Homo sapiens: one gene and its partner. The gene in region 1 interacts genetically with each later gene. Each region holds a gene or a part of one and is shown in the gene's direction. Other genes may lie near its edges. The genes, in order: YWHAQ and NRIP1.

Evidence for each region.
Region 2: of YWHAQ (region 1) and NRIP1, changing one suppresses a phenotype caused by changing the other (phenotypic suppression), as found in Homo sapiens cells (one study listed by BioGRID).

The regions. Positions count from the first base shown.
Region 1 is NC_000002.12:9,585,987-9,593,270, reverse strand, and holds part of YWHAQ (14-3-3 protein theta), read left to right. Parts: intron 1-1,755; coding exon 1,756-1,879; intron 1,880-4,942; coding exon 4,943-5,106; intron 5,107-5,761; coding exon 5,762-5,857; intron 5,858-7,284. UniProt on the Homo sapiens protein: Adapter protein implicated in the regulation of a large spectrum of both general and specialized signaling pathways. Binds to a large number of partners, usually by recognition of a phosphoserine or phosphothreonine motif.
Region 2 is NC_000021.9:15,054,877-15,062,160, reverse strand, and holds part of NRIP1 (nuclear receptor-interacting protein 1), read left to right. Parts: intron 1-7,284. UniProt on the Homo sapiens protein: Modulates transcriptional activation by steroid receptors such as NR3C1, NR3C2 and ESR1. Also modulates transcriptional repression by nuclear hormone receptors.

The DNA.
Region 1 (7,284 bases):
GAGACTTTGTCTCAAAAAAAAAAAAAAAAAAAAAGACATGGATGCAGTGATTGCATTTTGTTAGACCACTTTTAGTCAGATAAACAAGAAGAAAGTTCTTGGTTAGAATTGTATATTTTTAAATTTATAAACAGCCTTCCTTTTCTTTAGCAGTTATGTGAATTTGACTCAACCTTACTTGTTAATTCTCCAGACTTGCCAACTTGGTATCATGGATGGTATTTTATATAATATTAACTGAGCGTATCTGTGGTTATTTTTCCAAAATGTAAAAAGGATCTTCTCTCTTCCCTGCTTTAAAACGTTCACTAGTTTCACTTTTCCTAGAGCAGTGCTTTTCAAACTGTGTACCTAGGCTGATACTAGCTAACATTTACTGAGTACTTAACATGTGACACTATTCCAGGCTTTGACATCTGTTACTGGTTTTATTCTCAAAACAAACCAATGAAGTAGGTATTAGTATCTTAACATTTTTATGAGAATTTCATTTTGCTTTGTAATATTTAATACAAAAAAGCTTTTTTTGTTTTTGTTTTTGTTTTTTGAGATGGAGTCCACACTGTCACCCGGGCTGCAGTGCAGTAGCATGATCTCGGCTCACTGCAACCTCCACCTCCCAGGTTCAAGCAATTCTCCTGCCTCAGCCTCCTGAGTAGCTGGGATTACAGGTGCCCACCATCACGCTTGGCTAATTTTTTGTATTTTTAGTAGAGACGGGGTTTCATTATGTTGGCCAGGCTGGTCTCGAACTCCTGACCTTGTTATCTGCCCGCCTTGGCATCCTAAAGTGCTGGGATTACAGCCGTGAGCCACCGCGCCCGGCCCTAAAAAGGTTTTTAAATGGATGACCTAGCATCAAGAAAAATGGAATCTAAGAAGATTTCTATCATATTTGTCTTTTGTGACTTTTTATACTCCAAGGCATAGCATACCATGTACTAGAAGTGAAAATTTCTTTGTATGAAATTAGGGACAAAAGACATACTCAAGAACTTTTTTAAAAAAATAATTAGATTTCGTAGACCTAAAATTATTCTTTTAAATTGCTGTGCAAGTTTCTAAACCTCTTACTCTCGATTCCTGTATTTACCTCATTTTAGATGGATACTTGAATGCAAAGGGCACTGAGTAGCACTATTCTCCCTCGTACTTGATGTTTTAAACATTTTGTTTCCCGTCCCTAAAATGAGTGCACATCCCTGTTTTCTGTTTGGTGCATTTCTACTTTTCCTTCTTCATGCCTCAAATACTCTTTCCCTGGGAAGCCTGTCTTAACTGGAGGCCATCTCCAGCAGAGCTACTCCATCTGTGTGCTTCCTTAGCACCGTATTCACATCTTTCTTAGTTCTTGGTATGTAGTTGGTGTACTTACAGACGGTGAGCTTCTTGAGGGCAGGGGCCTGATTTTAAGTCTTCTCTATATCCGTTATAGCACCTAGCAGGTATGAGTAAATGTTGAATGAATGGATGAGTGAACAGATAGGCTGTTTCAAATTACAATGTTTGGTGTAATCTAGAATCTAGCCTTACCATTAGAAACTATAGGCTACATCATTTAAAGCCTCCCAGGGCAACTAGTGGCAACAACCTAACCCCTGCTCTAAGAACATGCTTCAAGTCCAGGCTGGTATGGTATAGTATTACTGTAGTAGTAAATGATTGAAATGCCCGCTAGGCAGAAGTTTTATCATTTAATGATAATGCACAGTAGGCAGAAGTTTAGTGCCTAATGTTCTGTCTTATTTATTTCAGGAATTGTTGGATAAATATTTAATAGCCAATGCAACTAATCCAGAGAGTAAGGTCTTCTATCTGAAAATGAAGGGTGATTACTTCCGGTACCTTGCTGAAGTTGCGTGTGGTGATGATCGAAAACGTAAGTTTATTTGTTATATGGGCAAAAGTAGAATATAAAAAAAAGAAATGGGGATAAATGGGACACTATGACAGTATACGTAGTCTTCAGGCTCTTTGTGACTTAATAATTGAATGTATGTCAAGAAAATTAGTATTACCTTATGTTCTCAAAAATGAAAATTGGATTATAAATTTACATCACATGCTCTTTAAAAAAATTAAGCTCATCTGTGAACTCTGTAATCTCATATGGTATTATTTAAAACAGGATTAATCTTTTATGCTTTTTAGAATTTTGGTTCACCATATTTTTAGCTCCAGAGTTTTTTGTGTAAACTTTATGAGTGATTCTGCATTTCACATGGCCTTTCTATTATGCCTTAAAACTTCAGATCACTGGAAATTACATACAGAACGTGGAAACAGGTTGTTGTGCTTTTGCTGTTTGTCATATTCATTATCGTCTATTTTAAGGGGTCATAACATTGACTGCTAATTACATATAATCAGATTTCTGAGGAGAGGTGAAATGAGTGTGTTATTGCTGGTGTATAACTTGCTCCAACTTCACAGTAAGTTTGAATGACTCATGGTTAGGTTTTACTTGAGAAGGTTGAATATACAGGAACTGTTGATTAATCAAGTAGTGGTCATAAAAATAGATTTTAGTATTAAATACCTTTTTTTTTTAACCTAGACTATCATAGAAAACATGGATATGAGAAAAAGTGACCGAATTGCCTAACTTGATAATAAAAAAGTGAAGTGAATTTATTTGCAGTGAATGTCTCTTGGGATACTGGCAGCTGAATATAAGATAGATCTCATTAAATTTAGTGTATGTGCTTGCTACCAGATTTATCAAGTTCTAGGTATTAGAAGTGTCAGTCCTTATTTTTTCCAGTAAGTTTGTTGTTTTGTTCTTAATTTTGCCCTGTCTACAAAGATATACCCCTACAAATAGTTACTATGATCTGAAAATGAGAGTTTTGCCATCCTAAATATCAGTGTAACTGAATATATAAAGAGAACTTGTACCTGAGAAACTGTTATACCTTGCTATAACAAAATCTATATACTAAACTTACTTATTCTGTTACTGATGTGTAATTTCTGTTGCCATGAAGGTAAGCAGAATTGGACATGATACGGGCACGGAACTGTACATTTAAGTATCAGAAAGCCAAAGAGAAGTATTTGGGAGATTGAGACATAGCTGTAGCTTTAACCTGATTTAACCCTTAGGAGCTCATTGGCACTTTCAGGTCTCACACGTAGTCCTGTGTACATTCTGATAGGCTGCGATTCATAGATAGGCTGTCTTTATAGCCTAATTGCTGAGACACTGGTGCTTCCTAATTTGCCAAGCTGCAAGAACTTCTTATTGCATGTGGGCTGTACCAGTCAGGGATTAGATCAATAAATGTGCCATTTCAGAGGAAAGAAAATGAACATAATTCAGGTCATAAAGGGATAGCTTAATTCTCTTACGTCAGTATCTCTAAAGCTGTAATAGGCCAGTGGCCTCATACAGAAAACTACCCTTTTCAAAACATGGGTATAATCAGATTAGTGTTGGTAATACTGAACATTTTTTGAAGGGGGAGTAACATTTTAATTAGGCTAGTAATCAAACTCTGGTCAGAGCAGATTTTGTCCTATTTATTGAAACTTTTATATTGCCTTTCAAATAATACCACTTGATACTAAGAATCAGTATTTCTGCAAATCAGAAAAATAGAGATTTTGGTGTTGATGATCTTTGTAAAGTTTACATTATTTAGGGAAAGGGTATTCCAGTCAAATTATTATTATTATTATTAATTTTGAATGGAGTTTTGCTCTTGTTGCCCAGGTTGAAGTGCAATGGCGCGATCTTGGCTCACCGTAAGCTCCGCCTCCCGGGTTCAAGTGAGGCTTGTGCCTAGCCTCCCAAGTAGCTGGGATTACAGGCATGCATCACCACTCCCATCTAATTTTTGTATTATTAGTAGAGACGGGGTTTCTCCATGTTGGTAAGGCTGGTCTTGTACCTCCAACCTCAGGTGATCTGCCTGCCTCAGCCTCCCAAAGTGTTAGGATTACAGGCGTGAGCCACTGTAAATTATTCCAGTCAAATTATTTTTAATTGCTGCATTTCCAAGTAATAGAATTAAAAGACATAAAATAAGAAAATAGTTTTAGCCTAGGTATGGAAAAAAGTCTGATTTACTATAATATCTCATGTTTTTTTTCCATTAAGCTGTTTATATGTAAGCAACATTCTAAACTGGTTTTTTGTTTTGTTTGTTTGTTTGAGACAAACTGTCACTGAGGTTGGGAGTGCAGCAGCATGATCTTGGCTCACTGCAGCTTCAACCTCCTGGGCTCAAGGGGTCCTCCCACCTCAGCCTCCCAAGTAGCTAGAGCTACAGGCACGCACTACCATGCCTAGCTATTTTTTATTATTATTATTTTTTGTAGAGACAGGGATAAGATCTCCCTGTGTTGCCCAGGCTGGTCTTGAACTCTTCAGGTTCAAGTGATCCCCCTGCCTCACCTTCCCAAAGTGTTGGGATTAGAGGCATGAGCCACTGCACCTGGCCATAAACAAGTTCTTAAATACCCAGTACACAATATTGTTTTTGTTTGTTTGTTTTTGACACAGAGTATCGTTCTGTTGCCCAAGCTGGAGTGCAGTGGTGTGATGTCGGCTCACTGCAACCTCAGCCTCCCAGGTTCAAGCGATTCTCATGCCTCAGCCTCCTGAGTAGCTGGGATTACAGATGCCCGCCATCACGCCTGGCTAATTTTTGTATTTTTAGTAGAGATGGGGTTTCGCCATGTTGGCTAGACTGGTCTTGAACTCCTGATCTCAAGTGATCCACCCACCTCGGCCTCCCAAAGTGCTGGGATTATAGGCGTGAGCCACCGCGCCTGGCCACGATAATGTTTTTTGTTAGCTACCATGATTTTAAAAGACCCATACAGAGAAAAAATCTTGGTTCTACCAAGAGCTAGTAGCATATGTTCAAGTTGTTAATGTACTGTGTACTGGATGGTTATTTTTAATATTGCACTTCTTATTTTTCGCTCTTCACAGAAACGATAGATAATTCCCAAGGAGCTTACCAAGAGGCATTTGATATAAGCAAGAAAGAGATGCAACCCACACACCCAATCCGCCTGGGGCTTGCTCTTAACTTTTCTGTATTTTACTATGAGATTCTTAATAACCCAGAGCTTGCCTGCACGCTGGCTAAAACGGTAAGATGTGTGTCCAGGAAATACGTACTTTAGCTACAGTTATTTGAGATACCAGGTATGTTAATTTATAGGTATTTTACTTGGATACCCAGGGATGATTTCTACTATATTTATTTTGAAATCTCCTCTTTTTCTTCCCATCATGATTACCTACTCCTACCCCTGACACCTTACTCTACCCTATGATTATAAGCAGTGATGTGCCTACAGAGCATACTGAGCAGAGTAATCAAAGAAGGATAAATGATGTTAAGAAGGAAACATAAAAGATTAGAAAGTCATGCCTGCCAGGTTTGGTTACTAGAATAGCTGTGCATCAGCCACATTCCTCAAAGTGGCTCAAAACGAGAGAATAAAGAGGACCCTGTAGAGATAAGTACTACTTAACTGGAAAGAAGTCTGTTAAGCATTGCTGCTGTTCCGTTGTCCTGTGAAAGAACCAAGACATGCTTGTTTACTAAGTGTATAGTTTTATAAAATTCCAGTCATACTCATAAGTTCTTAAACTGGGAGTGTGAGAGAATGGTTCTGTTGAGTTTGTTGATGGTAGAACATAAGGTGGGTGTTCACTTATTTTGTAAAAATGGTTTGTAATTGTAGAATAACCAGTTTTCGTCAATGCACATATTTTACCATGGATATTAATATTTATCAGGCTTTTGATGAGGCCATTGCTGAACTTGATACACTGAATGAAGACTCATACAAAGACAGCACCCTCATCATGCAGTTGCTTAGAGACAACCTAACAGTGAGTTGTTTACTCTTTTAATTTTATTTTCTTTTCAGAAACAAAAGTATTTATATTTTATTTTGGACTTCGTGTCTTTTAGGGAAGATACATACGAGCTGAAAGTATGAGATACGTGTTAGTATTTTATGGGACGAACATTATTTTGTAGGCAGGTTTTCAAGTTGAATAGGCATTTTATCAGACCTTCCTGAGAAGGTTCTAACATGATAGGAACTCAATATTAATATTACTATTTCATTGGGATGAAGATGTTGATAAATTATGTTAATAAAGAGCTTATCAAGTTTCAATATTTTGGGGCAAATCAGCTATAGCCAGTTAGGGACTATCTAAATATCTACGCTTTCTTAAAATCACAGGAAGTACCTTGTTCTAATAAAAGTTTACTTTGTGAATTGTGCATGATGTTCTACAAGCATTTAGGGAGTAAACCTATACCTAAACTTACTCCTTCTCTGCTTCTAGGCAAAAGCTTCTGTTTTGTTTGTCTTTTTCTCCCTGCTTCTTAGATAGGCAATTGATAAAGGAAGTAATCAAGAAAAAGTACAGCTTAAGCTTTACTTTAACATTCTTTTGTAGGTTCAAGTAAATTTGATAGGTAAAATCTTAGACTTCACAGAAGGAAAAAGAAGGGAACAAATCTTTTAATATAGATCTCGTCCTCCCAGCCCCCTAGTTTGGTGCTTTATCATTTACTAGATAGGATTTTTTAAATATTAGCACCATGTCTATTCAATTTTGCTGAATAGGGTAATTATGAATCCACTGAAAGGGGAACGAAGACCCTGCATTTCTAGCCATGAGAAGTGCCTGTGGTTGTGAGGGGACAATGGAAGATGATCAGCAAATAGTTCTACAGAGGAAGAGCAAATTAGGCAGTTATACCTCTTCCCAGATGTATACCTTGGAGCTAACTATCTTTTAATCGGTTTTGTTTTGTTATCTCTATTATGGAGACAGGTCTTTGGGGGATTTTGTTTTGTTTGTTTTTATTTAGTATCTTCATAATAATCTAAGGATTATGTAAGATTCTGGCTTTTCTGAAATTAACACTAATGTCTTGCTGTTGGTCTAATAAAGTGCAATTATAGTCAATAAATACTGACTTCTCTTCTTCACTTCATCTTCCTATCCTAAAATCAGAGAGATCCTGGAAGATCCACTTAGTTTTAACATTCTGTCTAATTCAAGAACCCTGTCTATACATGCACACATTGCTTCCCTGTAGCTTCCATCACCCACTTCTATTTAATTCTTGGAGAAACACAAAGTAAGTCTGCTTTTCCTATAGTTTAGCCCTTCACACACTTGAAAATTGTTAACCATGATTGTGGCTTTTTCCTCCCTGTGAAAATGTTTTGCTTTATTAGTCTGTAATAATAATGCAGTAGTGCTTTCAAGAAGAGCATTGGGCTGCTGGGAAT
Region 2 (7,284 bases), on another chromosome or scaffold:
GTCCATGGAGGAAGTAATGTTCCTCCTTTAAGTGGTGTAGCCTGAGAGAAAGATGGCCTCCAAGATCTTTAATTAAATACCAGTTGAACAGAAAGAACTAGAGCACTGTATTAATTCTGTCAAACATCACTATTTTAGAACATTGAGGACAACTAAAAATGAATTAACGCATATCTGAAAGCAGAGTTTGATAGAAGGTGACAGATGAGGCAAAATATGCCAATCTAATGGAACAAATAAGATAAGGAGATATGCCATCCTTGACTCTAGAAAGATCAGAGGGAAGAAGATTATTGTTAATTGCACAGATTCTATTGCAGACCAATGCTAGAAGACAATGACATAGAAGTAATTTTAAATCAGAGTGGCTTAGGATATATGAGGTTAAAGGAATTTGGCTTTTAATTTTAAAACGTAAAGAATGTAAGAAACTCAAAAGCTCATGTTCTAACTGTTGTTTGGGAAAAGCAGTAATAGTTTGGTGTATCAGGTTAAAAGATAATTTTGCTCAGAATGAGTTTAAAATACCGAATTTTTGTCAAGGAAAACATTATTCACTTTAAATTGTGCTAGGGTCAGTTTTGCTTTTCGCATTTGAGATTGCTTGATACAATTAGTTTTTAATGTAGGTTAGTAAGAGGAAATGGTAGTCCCTTCCCTACCATTTCCCTCCCTCCCTTGCTCTCTTCCCCTTTTCTAAAATAAACACTGTCTAGATCTTTGGATATTTTCTTCCATGAAAAACTGCCTTAGTTGCAGCGTTCCTTCTTGGCTGTGGGTGGGGAGAAGTTTCTTCACTCTTGTACTTTTCCCTTCTGCCCCTTCAGGTGATTGATACACAATCAGAGTGGGTTTTGTTCTGTGTGTTTGTTTAATAACGATTTACTGTTACACGGATGAAGACTGGGAAAAAGCATTTGCCGTTCTAGCAAAGTCCTGTATACCCATGTCTTCCAACTGGAGAAATATTTTCATTAAAATAATCTTGACTACTGTTGAAAAGTCAAAGAAAATTTTCAACAAGATATGCTAGGGTCTTGCAGGATATGAGTTTGAATCTGTGAACTAAAAAGGTTCAAGTTGCATTTCCTTAAGTTGTAGTTTTTTCAGGGACTTTTGGGGGAGGGGGAATGAGCAGGCTCATCCTGTAGTATTTAGATAACACAACAATTAGAGAAATGTAACACCACTATGGCCACTAAGACTTGAGAAGGTAAAAACCAGGAGTGTCAGATGGTGAAACAGGCCATTGGAATGGAACTGAAGATTATGTCGAGAGGTTGGAATGAACAAAAAGTAAATGGAGGAGAGAGATCTAGTTTCTGTATCCTGTTTGCATCTGATGCTGAAGCAGAGACATGAATTGCTGATGGTAATGGATTCTATTCTCTTTTAGGAGGCCAGCAATATTATATAAATAGTGGTTGTTTGAGGGAGAGAAACGACAAGTTCCCCTTTTGTGCATGTTCACACTTTGTTTTGAATGTCTCTGAGATATCTTTAAAGTAGAGGATCAAAATTGGGTACCAGCATGGAATCAGGAGTTATACTTTGGAGGAAAATGAATTAATATTAGATCACATTTTCTTTAATCTTTTAAGATCTGGAATTTTACAAGGGTCTTCATCAACAGGGAAAACCGTGTTCTGAGTGCTAAAGTTTGGGTGGTGAACTGGATAATTCTTTTATAGGATCTCTGATAAAGATAAACATGTAAATAACTGCAGAAATAATGCTTTATTTAAGCACATTACCTATGATTCATGGTAGGGGGAAAATAGAGACCACAGAAACTCCTGAAGTCTTATCAGGGTTTCTTTGCAAACTATTATATGGATGCCCATCTGTTGTTTTTTCTTGAAATTTAGTGTTCAGGTTGATGGATACTGAATGTATAGGATTCTGAAGGTTGGAGTTTATTTAAAACAGAACTTTCCTTTTGTTTTACTACGAGTTATGAAATGCAGTTTTAATTTGTTGCAATAAATATAGAAACTGAGATGAGTAGGAATTTATACTAACTTTTCTCACTGTTATGGTACATACTCTATATCATGAACCTTGAAATTCAAATTGATCCCTACACTATCTTGCAAATATTACAAATGAAGAATTACAAAAGTTGTGGTATTTTAGCTTATCAAAATGCACCCGAAACATAAAATATTTTTCTTTAAGTTCTTAAATCAGAAGAATAGGAAAGAGTTGAAAATAAATGTGATACATTTTATCATTATATTAGTATTTTGTTGAAATTAATACCTTGAATCATGCTATGGATAAACATTTAGCCTAGAACTCTAAAAGTAGTATAATGTGAATCAGATTTAAAGAATTGAGAAGGCTGGCAATTCAAAAATAGAGGAAGAAAACACTCTTTGGGGTTATGAAAAAAAGGATCCTCTTAGTATTAAGATTTCTTAAAAAGCTATACACAGTTTTAAGATAGATTGTTCTTGAAGATAATGGGGCAAATAATTACCTGCTAAACAAATTATGAGTCCTGTGATTCTTTTTTTGGTTGAAATAATTTCAAGAACTCCAGCATATGTTGCAGTTTTGGCTAGAAAGGTGATTGTGACATACATCCATTCATCCATTCTCCCTCTCTCCTTCCCTCCTTCCCTCCCTTCCTTCTTTCCACTTTCAATACATAGGGCTGGGGTAGCAAAAAAAAATAATAATAGTAAACAGTTTTGTAAAACTTGATAATAGAATTATCTGACAGGGTTAATAGTTGTGTTTGAAATTCAGAGCTAGTATGGTTCACTCTCCCCAGAAAATAAAATTTTAATTTCTTACACCTCAGGGAATAAAAACTCTAAATTAAAACCCATCTTGCCTCTTTAACTTTGTGTCACTTAGCAAAAATATCTTTAAGGATGGAAAGAAGAGACCCCATGTGTCTTAAATTCCAAGTCACTGTGTGACTAAGCTCGGAGTTCCAATAAATATTAAACTAGAATTCTGCTGGGAATTTGAGTCATCCGCTTAAGCTACTCCTGGGACCAAGACAACTCTGGTTGACCTGATGTTGATGTTTATTCAGAGCTTTGGTGGAAAGGAGCCTCTCACCCTTGGACTTCTAATTAACAAAGTCATTCCTTAGTCACTTGTTAAGTGATAGAGCTACTCCTTGTTTTCAGGCCTGTAATTTGCTAAAGGATTGAGCACAACAGAGAAACTAAGGAGTTTGGAGCTTCTGCTGTTTAGAGTCTGCTTTCATTATTTTACTTTTACTTTCTTATCTAGCTATGTGAGGGTACTATGTAAAAGTCTGGTGATTTGCTTTAGATACTTAAGAGAAAAGCTTAGCTGTAGTCACATATAGTGTCTAAGATGGCTTTCCTTATAGTTACATGTTTTTAATAGTTGAGTTTGCCTATACTCTTCATAACATGTGCACATGTTAAATATGTTACTGCTTTAAAAAAGCATTTCATTAGTAAGATGGGGAATCGTTTATGTACAATATTGAAATGAGAGTAGTAGTATAATGGTGTGTTTGGTAACTAACAGGACACAATCAAAATTTGAGAATTAGAAGTTCAGAATGAAAAAAGGACTTCTCTCTTGAGGAATCTATCTAGAAGTTGAGAGATAGCAAGTGTTTAACAGAGTGTAATGATTTCTGAGAAGCATGCTTTTAAAGATTTTTTTTAAATTCCTGAATTTATGAGTTTATATTATAATAATCTATAATAGAGCAATAGATTTATACACTGGAAAAGAAACAAATTAAGGGAAGGAGAGAATACACAATGACATGGAGGACATCAAGAAAATATGTTTGGAAACATGTGAAACTCTCCAAATGGGAAATAAATATTCTTGAGAGAAATTAATCACAGTTGCAGTTTTTCTCCTAAAGGGACTGTTTGCACAATGGGTTATGTAGGCTCAGGTTTGATTTTTGAAAAACATGTTAAAAAATAGTATTCCTGTTATTCCACGTTTATTTTTCGAGTTTAGGTTCTGCTACTAAATCAAGATGATACAGATAAAAGGAAAGCCCTTTTATCTCCCCCGGCAGCATCTGTTGAATAAGGGGGTTATATTTGATTTCTAAATTCTAAAATTCTGACTGTACAGCAGTATATGCCGTTGTTGACAGTAAACAGTAAAGATTTCAAGCCTGTGGTTTTAAAAGAAGAAGAGATGATTGGGTAGAAACTTGGAATATTAAGAAGTTGTTTAGTTACTTGGCTGTTGCCTTTTCCTGTTTTGTTGGGAGGGGGAGCAGGGAAAGGAAGAGTATTGAACTTTTTGGGGCAACCGTTTTGTGCCAGACATTGTGCTGGAAGCTTTACACACATTTTGTCTTTTAATCCTTCCAGTTCCCCTGTGACATGTAGGTATCATTTTCTCTAGTTTAGAGATAAGGAAACCTAGTCTGAAAAATGCAAGAATAGTTAACTTGCCTGTGGTCACATGGCAAATTTCATTGATAATTTGATTTTCTTAAAGAATATGCCATTGTTTGAAGAAAAAACCAGTTGCCATCTGACATTCAGGAAGCCGTTAAAAAACCTTGCTCCCAACCTGGTAGCCATAAAACTCATGCAGCATTTGCAAGCCTCATAGCCTGGATTCTCCAAGACCAGGCTCTCTGGGAAGGCACATTGTTGCCAGTCGATGATTCTGCAGCAGCTTATGCTAGTTCTCAAAGCGCTGATGTCCTGCTACCTGCATTGCGCTGGAGGGAAATGTAGTCACCAAGGGCTGCCGCACAGGCTCTTTTCCCTCCAGTGCTAACTCTTCTGAAGTGTATCACAGAATTACTGCGGTGTTATTTGAGGCAGTGAAAGCAACTATGTTTCTTTATATAATTCATTGAAATAGCTTGTCATGGTCTTAAACTGAGTGTTCCCAAGGCTAGTTATGTTTGTCCACTTCAAGGAGCAGTTGTAGCAAATTCAGAACCATAGCTCTTCCTGGTTGAAAAGTTACAACTCTTGACTATTAACAGTTCTTAACATGATTTTTTTTTTAATTACCCTATCTTCACTCACAACAATTTTGTTAAAGACTATCCTGTGCTGATAAACTGCTCTCTGAAATGCAAAGAGGAAATTAACAATGTATTTGTGAATTGGAAGGAAGTGGAAGCAGAGAGATGAGGAGTAGTTGACTTTATTTTGAGGGTAGACTGTGTCAGGAGGGAGATTGTTGAGTGGGGGAGCTTTGTGGCACATAGTACATTTTTAAGTACATACCAGGTACGTTCTTTTATTGTTAAAGCCATAAGAAATGGAGTTATGAGCTTCTCCACCTCCTTTTACTTGCCTCATTTAAAATTTATGGAATTTTTGAACCTAAAAGATTCAAGCTGAGTGGTTCCCTATACACTGAAAGGTATAGTCAAATTGAAACTATATTGGAGACACAAAGATGAATAATAAGACGTGTAAACATAATATTTTCTAGGGTGCTTTGGATTTTGAGTTGCCAAATCATGTTGGAAAAGCAAGAGATTTGTATAAAAGCTGCAAAGGAAACATCTGTGTTTTGTTTAGAGAATACGTTATATTTTGGCCAAATAAGAAAAAAGAGAAATTGTCAAAGTGAACAATATGGGGGGAAGAATGTCTTCCTAAAGATCAGAATGAACTTATATTATTTCCTTAACTGATCCATGCTTTTTAAAAAAAAATGAATTAAAATACACTGAATCTATGTGAAGCCAAATATAAGGATTGAAAACAGTCTTTTTTAAATTTACCATCTGATTCCTTTCCAATATCTGGATGTTTGCTATTATTGTGGCAAGACCCATTGTTAACTGTATTGCTAAAAATCTACTTTTATCTATCCTGGTAATACTTGACTGACCTGAGTCAAAGTCACATTTTCTTTTTTTTTTTTTTTTAACTTTGAATTTCTTTTGCTTGGGCTTTCACAAATTGAAGTTATTTCATAGAATCGTTAGATTTTTCAGGTTGGAAGAGAATTTGATAAAAGCTACGGCTGCTCTGGATTTAAGCACACCTATCTTAGAGGCACCTTGTCCTCCCCCCATTTATCAAACAAGTTAGTTTTTAGATGCATCTTTTGTATGGAAGAGCACACAGTTAGTGTAGACTATAAATAAAATAATGATAAAATGCTACCATTTAGTGCTTATGTGCCATTTTCTTTCCTTTTGGGTTTCCTTCTTTATTTCTGTTTTGTCTTTACTCTGTTTTCCTTTTTATTTCTTAATATCTCATTCATCTTTTTTTTTAATTGCCAGGGGATCCATGTGATACAATGGGGTCAATAATTACTTATCTTCCTGTAGTTTTTGTTATTGCTGTTAAGTTAAAATGCCCAAAACAGTTACTATCTGCATTTTACGGAGGAAGAAATTGAGTCCTTAAGAATTTAAAGACGTTTTGAAAGTCATTCAGCTAGCAGTTGGGTAGACCTAGGATGGTCAGTCAAATCTTGATTTATTTCACACTTTTTTGTTTATTTTTGTCAAAGCAGTCTCAGAAAGAGGGGTTTGTGTACCAGGTGTTAAGGAATAGTTAATAACCTTTGGTGATGGATCCCGCAGTAAAATCCAAGCTAACCCCACAAAGGGATCTATAATAATAAGAACTGGGTCTTGAGACATGAAACGAGAATTGGCTGGCTGCATCACTTTTGTTCTAGTACCTTATTTTCTTCTCATGGTCTTCATAAAAGTCTTAGGATTTGTTGAATATTCTAGTACTTGAAATGTAATTTCCAGGCTGAGAATTTAAAAAAAGAATAGTACAGTTATGTACATGTTCATGCAGTGGCATTGTTTTACATGTTACGTACATTTGGAATTTTATTTAAAAAGAAGTAGGGAGACTTGCTATTTATTTGCAGACAAAGAGAGCCAGATACCTTTAGTTGACCAGAACACTCACAGGCCAGCTCTACTTTTTACTGATGAGTAGTATTCCAACACCATTAATGTAGGTGGTTGGGTCTGTTGGTTCAACTGGAAACATATCTCAAAGTTTATGGACCCCATTCCTCTATTCTCTTGAGAAAGGTAACAAATAAGATGAGGGGGCACTGTGTGGACCAGTGGTGATAATGTGCCATGAACCAAGTGCACGTTGGTCTACACCCCTAGAAAAGAGAGCAAGAGAGAAGAAACCTATGTGTAGACCTTTTCATGGACCACACACTGGCCACGTTCCTGATGTTGGTGAAACAAATTGGAAAGGAATATTCTCCCTCATGGGACAGTGGGCAAGGGAGTTTGTAGGCTTACTTCTGTCCCCAAGCCTCTAACAAGATCAGATTTTCTTTCACAGTTTTGTG